2 separate regions of the Homo sapiens genome follow, and region 1 is linked to region 2. The links come from fine-mapping of genetic effects on gene expression. A gene starts in region 2. The other region holds a variant in brackets. All regions are shown on one strand. Distances are from middle to middle.

What was found. PIP is the estimated chance that this variant, and not a neighbour inherited with it, causes the effect.
Region 1: its variant is the best candidate, but not a certain one, in a credible set for the expression of GRIK2 in skin (TwinsUK, PIP 0.72).

What each region holds. Positions count from the first base shown.
Region 1 is chr6:101,328,325-101,331,248 of GRCh38, reverse strand. No RefSeq gene overlaps it. Among named protein-coding and RNA genes, the nearest start is that of GRIK2, 64 kb to the left of the region's middle. The variant C/A (reference allele first, on the strand shown) is at 1,364.
Region 2 is chr6:101,392,312-101,395,235 of GRCh38, reverse strand. GRIK2 (glutamate ionotropic receptor kainate type subunit 2) reads right to left here and starts at 1,528. Exons shown (of 17, transcript NM_021956.5): 1 at 1,399-1,528.

The DNA.
Region 1 (2,924 bases), 64 kb after region 2:
ATACAAAAAATTAGCCGGGCATGGTGGTGGGCGCCTGTAGTCCCAGCTACTCGGGAGGCTGAGGCAGGAGAATGTCGTGAACCCGGGAGGCAGAGCTTGCGCGAGCAGAGGTCGCGCCACTGCACTCCAGCCTGGGGCGATAGAGCGAGACTCCGTCTCAAAAGAAAAGAAAAAAGAAAAAAGAAAACAGAAAATCTGAATAGACTCGTAACAAAGAGTTGGAATGATGATCAAGTTGGCCTTAACATTACCCTCAGCTTCACTAAACTTTAAATAAACTGCAAATAAACTTCTTTCTCATTATATGCCCCTGAAGTTCCTTTTCTTAGAAATTTTATTCAGAAAACTTGTAATTATAAATTATTTATCTGCTCTTTGAAGACGTAATTTTTTTTCCAACCTCTTGCCAGTTTTACATTTCAGGAATATCTTTCTCAAGGACCTGGGAACCATCTCTCTGAAATGTAATCATCCAATAAAAAAGTGTTCCTATCTCCCAGTTTCTGGGGGAGGGTAGAAGTAGGTAGGATACCTTGCTCCAAATTGTGAAGCTACTTTCTGTTATAAAGACAGGAGAAGGTTTACTTTTTCTCTGGGAAAAACCAATTCGCAAACACTGATGGCCTATAATCTCCCTGACCTTCTCCAGCACTTAAAACATTTCCAGCACTTTGTCTTGAAGGAACCAGGTATCCAGATGTGTTGTGTGACCTCTGCTCTATGCTGGCACTAGTATCAGAATAAAAACAACTGTTGTCTGTCTGCTCATCTTGTCCGGTACATTTTTTTTTTCTTTAATAGCTAGTAATAACAACAAGAAAAATCCCACAAAGAAAAGTACAGGACCAGATAGCTTCAATGATAAATTTTATCAAATGTTTAAATAAAAATTAATACCAATCCTTCAAAAACTCTATTAGATAAATAGATGAGGAGCACTTTTATAGGAATATTATGAGGACAGTATGACCCTAATTCCAAGGCGAAAGATATTATAAGAAAAGATCACTACAGATTAAAATCCCTTAGAAATATAGATACAAAAATTCTCAACAAAATACTGGCAAACCAAATCCAGCAACAAATAAAAATATGATACATTATGACCTAGTTTGAATTATCCCAGGAAGACAAAGTTAGCTCAATATATGAAAATCAGTCTATGTAGTATACCATGTTAATGGAATAAAAGGGAAAAATTACATGATTATCTCAATAGACACAGAAAAAACATTTGACATAATCTGACAACCTTTCATGACAAGGACACACAACAAAATAAGAATAGAAGAGAGCTCCCACAATCCGTTAAAGAGCATTTATTTTTTTAAAAAATACCCACAACTAACTTAATAGTGAAAAA[C/A]TGAAATCTTTCCCCCTAAGTTGAAGGACAAGACAAGGATGCCCATTCTCGCCACTTCTATTCAACATTGTACTGAAAGTTCTAGTTGGGAAATTTTACAAGAAAAAGAAATTAAAGGCATCCATATTGGAAAAAATGTGAAATTATTTTTACATGAAGATGACATGATATTATATATAAAAAACCTATAAAAATACACATATATACACACACACACGAACTAATAAACAAGTCCAGCAAATTTGCAGGATACAAAATCAATAGACAAAAGGCAATTGAATTTCTATACTCTAGCAATAAACAATCTGAAAATGAAATTAATAAAATAATTCTACCATCAACCAAAAAAGTATAAGCTTTTTACACTGACAACTATAAAGTATTATTCAAATAAATTTTCAAAGATCTAAATAAATGGAAAGCATTTTGTGTTTATTGATTGAAAGATTGAATATTGTTAAGAAGGCAATATCTCCCAGATTGAGCTACAGATTCAATGCAATCTTTATCAAAATTCTAACTGCCATTTTTGGTAAATAGAGAAGTTAATCTTAAAATTCATATGAAAATGCAAGGGGCTCCAAACAGCTAAAACAATATTAGAAAAGAAGAATGAAGTTGAGAGACTCACATGTCACAATTTAAGAAGCTACTACAAAACCACAGTAATAAAGAGAGTGTGGTATTGGCAGAAGAATTGACTTATAGACAAAAGGAATAGTATTGAAAGTCCAGAAATAAGGCCATACAATAAGATCAACTGATTTTGGACAAGGGTACCATTGCCATTCAACAGAGAAGGAGTAGTCTTTCAGCAAATGGTGTTGGGCAACTAAATATCCACATGCAAAAGAATAAATTAGGTCCTCAAACCATATATAAAAATTAACTCAAAATAGAATAAAGAGCTAAATATAAAAGCACCATGTATAAAACTCTCAGCAAAAGTAGATGTATATCTTCATAAGTTTGAATTTGCAAGATTTCCTGTGCCTATCAAATCATGATAGACCTATCAACATTCATTTCCAGCACTACTTCATTCAATGTATTCAGACTTCAGAAAATATCTGCAACTGTGCCTATAACACTGGTCCTGTTCTCCTGGGAACAGATTCATTTCTGCTGCTATTTCCTGCCCTCAGACTTTACTGTGCGTTATTTTCTAGTGATTGCCAATAATTTGATCTGCTCCAATCCATGCATGTCCCTGTCCCTGAACTCTCAACCTCATAATACACTATAAAATGCACATTCTAGTCCCACCCTGGAATGACTCTGTTCCAGCCCTCAGTTATTATGAAATATTTCTGACCATAATTGTTTATTCCATGCATAAAATATTCCAGGCTTAAGTTAAGATTTAGAAGTAAAATGTAAAATAAGCCCAAAAGATATCCTATTTTTCCAAACTATAGTGGTTTAAGAAGAAAAAGCAAATTCATTTTTCAGGTGTCTGATTTGGAGATTATACAAGTAAATAATGTTTTTACTAAATATTAGTAGAATTAAGAGCTAAATAATGGAGAAAATAAATATTCACATTTTATTTACATTTTCT
Region 2 (2,924 bases):
AACAGCCTGTTTATACATGGCATTAAAGATCTCAGAGAATAAAGTCAGGACTGAGTCAGGTTTCAGTTGAAATCACACTGTTGCATACTTGCAACTCACTCTTCTTAACTATGCATGCTGTGGTATCCCTTATGATTCTGAACACATTATCAGCTGTTCCAGCAACATTCTGCTGCATTGATGATTAATGACATTTAGAGTTTTGATTAATTTTTAGACACTAAAATAAGTGTATCTTAATTAACAAATTGAAGTGGAATAAATTTACATATCCCAGAACTTTTTTTTTTAAATTTCAGCCTGTGTGATTTTCAATGGGTTTAAATAGGAGAAAACAAACAGATAAGACTTCCAAACATTGCTCAATTCTCTATCACCTTGCTCTTGTGCATTTCAATTTTTTGTTGTTTGTTTGACTCAAAAGTTTTTAAGGCCACTGGAAGTTGATAGGCTGCCTTGGTGGTTACAGGAATAGACTCTATAAAGTTAGAAAGTAATGAACTAAGACAAATCAAGATTGAAATACAATTGCATTTATTTCAGTAACTAAACTGACTAATTAAGACTCAAATGAACCAATCATCTCTCGTGAAATGAAAATAATCATCAATCCATAAGATAATTTCTGATGACAGAATACTTACAGTATGGAGATGAATAAACGATAGAAGATAATCTGTGCATTACCAAAAGGCTACTAATAGTAAGTTTTCTAATATTCCCCATTGCCTAAATTGGAAATTATTCTCTAAGGAGCCTCAGCTCGGTCGTGTTGTTTGGTAAAGAAACTCTATCTCCTTAAAGGTAAAAATATCAGAGGATGTGGTTCGTTAAAAGTTCTTGAGGTTTATGATCCACCCTGGTAACACTGCCCACTCCTTACCCTAATGGGACGCCCTCCAAGTTTTTTCAGAAGCTCTTAATACGGGTGCCGGTTAAAATAAATATACTTCCTCAGCGCAGAACTAAGGAGTAGGGTTAATGGAAGGATGGGTGGGCAGAAGGAGGGATGGGGAGTTCGTCAGACCCGCCGGCAGCCACACAGCTTCTTGCCATCTGTCTCATTCTCTTCGCCTCGCGTGAGTCCCCGTAGCTGAGGCCACTTCCTGACACGTCCACTTCTTAAATCATTTTATGTGGAGAACATAGGCGACTGCAGCCAACAGAGCCACTTGCATGCTTGACGGGAATTGGCTGAGATAAGCCCGACAAAGACTCGCAGTGAATCCGTCCAGCGGGCGCCCCGAGCGCACGGACGTCCGCAGCGCTACTGTTCGCCTTCTTCCTTCTCTCCAGGTGGAAAATGCCCCTCGCCCACCCGCAGTCCCTCCCGTCCTCTTGAAAACAAACACCTCGTGAAGGAGCCCGGAGTGCAGCCCACAGCCGGGGAGTCCTTACCTGGAGCTAGGGGTGAGGTGGGCGGGGAGGGGGTGGGGTGGTCCTCGGGGAGGAGCAGCCGGAGGAGGTCGGGCGGAAAAGTCCCCAGCTACCAGACCGACCAGCGCAGCCGCCGGCGCCGAGCGCGAGTGACGGCAGCGGCGAAGACGGTGACCGAGGAGCAGCAGCGGCGGCGGCGGCGGCAGAGACAGACACGCCTCCTGGCGGGGGTTCCTCGCCTCTTGCTTTAAAGGCGCCGCGCTCCTTTCCCCGTGGCCCCTGCACGCTCCTGGCCGCCGCGGCCACTCGGGGGCATCTCCCACCCCTGGACCACAGGAGCTAGAGCGAGAGAATTCCTGGTGTCCCTAGACTTGGATGTTACGAAGCCTCCGGCTGGACTTCGCTCCCTTAGCGCACACCCGCCTCCTGGGATGGGGAGACTAAGGCCAAGATGCTCTGTCAGGGAGTGAGTGATGCATGCAAAGCGCCGAGGAATTTGCCTAGCCTTGGGTGGTGACAACACATATAAGGAGCCCAAACACATTTGCTTCTGGGTGATGGCTTTTATGCCTCTCCGAAACCATAGCAACGAAACTTCTCCACTGCCAGGGCTTGGAGGGCTGCTGGTAGTCTCCAAAGTGGACCTCTTAGTCCAACTACGGTCATTTCCCTGAGGTTCGCAAAAAAAGATCTTGATCTGCGCACCCTCCCACCCCGACCTCCAGCGCATAGAGCAAATGCGCTCTGGTAGCGCTGCTGCGGGTATTCCCTCAGATGCTGGGAGTCACAGTGCCCTGCTCCCTGCCACCATTATTGAGAACAGATGCTTGGAAATTGACTTTTCCTGAGTGTTAGGAGGTCGGGCGGGCTGTCTCTGTGTATGTATGGCGCCTTAAATAGCAGACTCCCCTCTCCCCACCAAACTCCCGCCCAGGCCCCGGAACTCTCAACCTAAACACATTTCAGAAAGAAGTTGGATTCGAGATCTAGTGGGCGCCGAACCTGAGGTCGCAGACTCCAAGATTGGAGACAGGAGTCTGGGAAGCAGCCCTGGTTTGGCGGCCACTGGTCCAAGTTCTCGGGAGGACTCTTTTAAAGGCCAGAGATGGGGAGGGGCAACTGAGTCCCAGAGTCTTCCCGCAGCTTGGCTTCCAGGGAGGGGCTGGCGGCGGTGAGCGCACCAGGCTCTCCCTGCTTCACTGTGGAAACGATTAGCTTTTGCAAACAATCCCTGAGTTCCGCTCCTCTGGGTCGGAAAAGTCAACATCTATTCAAAACCGTTGCTATTTTATCCTCAGCCCTACAATATTAACTGGAGCTGAGTTTAGCAGTTTCCCCCAGAGGAAGTTGGCCAGCTCAGATTCGCGAGGAGATTTAAGTGAGGCTAAGCGGGAACAGGCCAGGCGCACTGGGCTCAAGAGACCATTTCAAACGGGCTGCATAAAGAAGGGGCCAGGGGGGATTCCACGGCTCTGCAGTCCCCTAGCAGTTCCAGTCCCTGGTGGTTCTCCACTATCTATCTAATTCCGAGGTCCGGGAATTAGAGA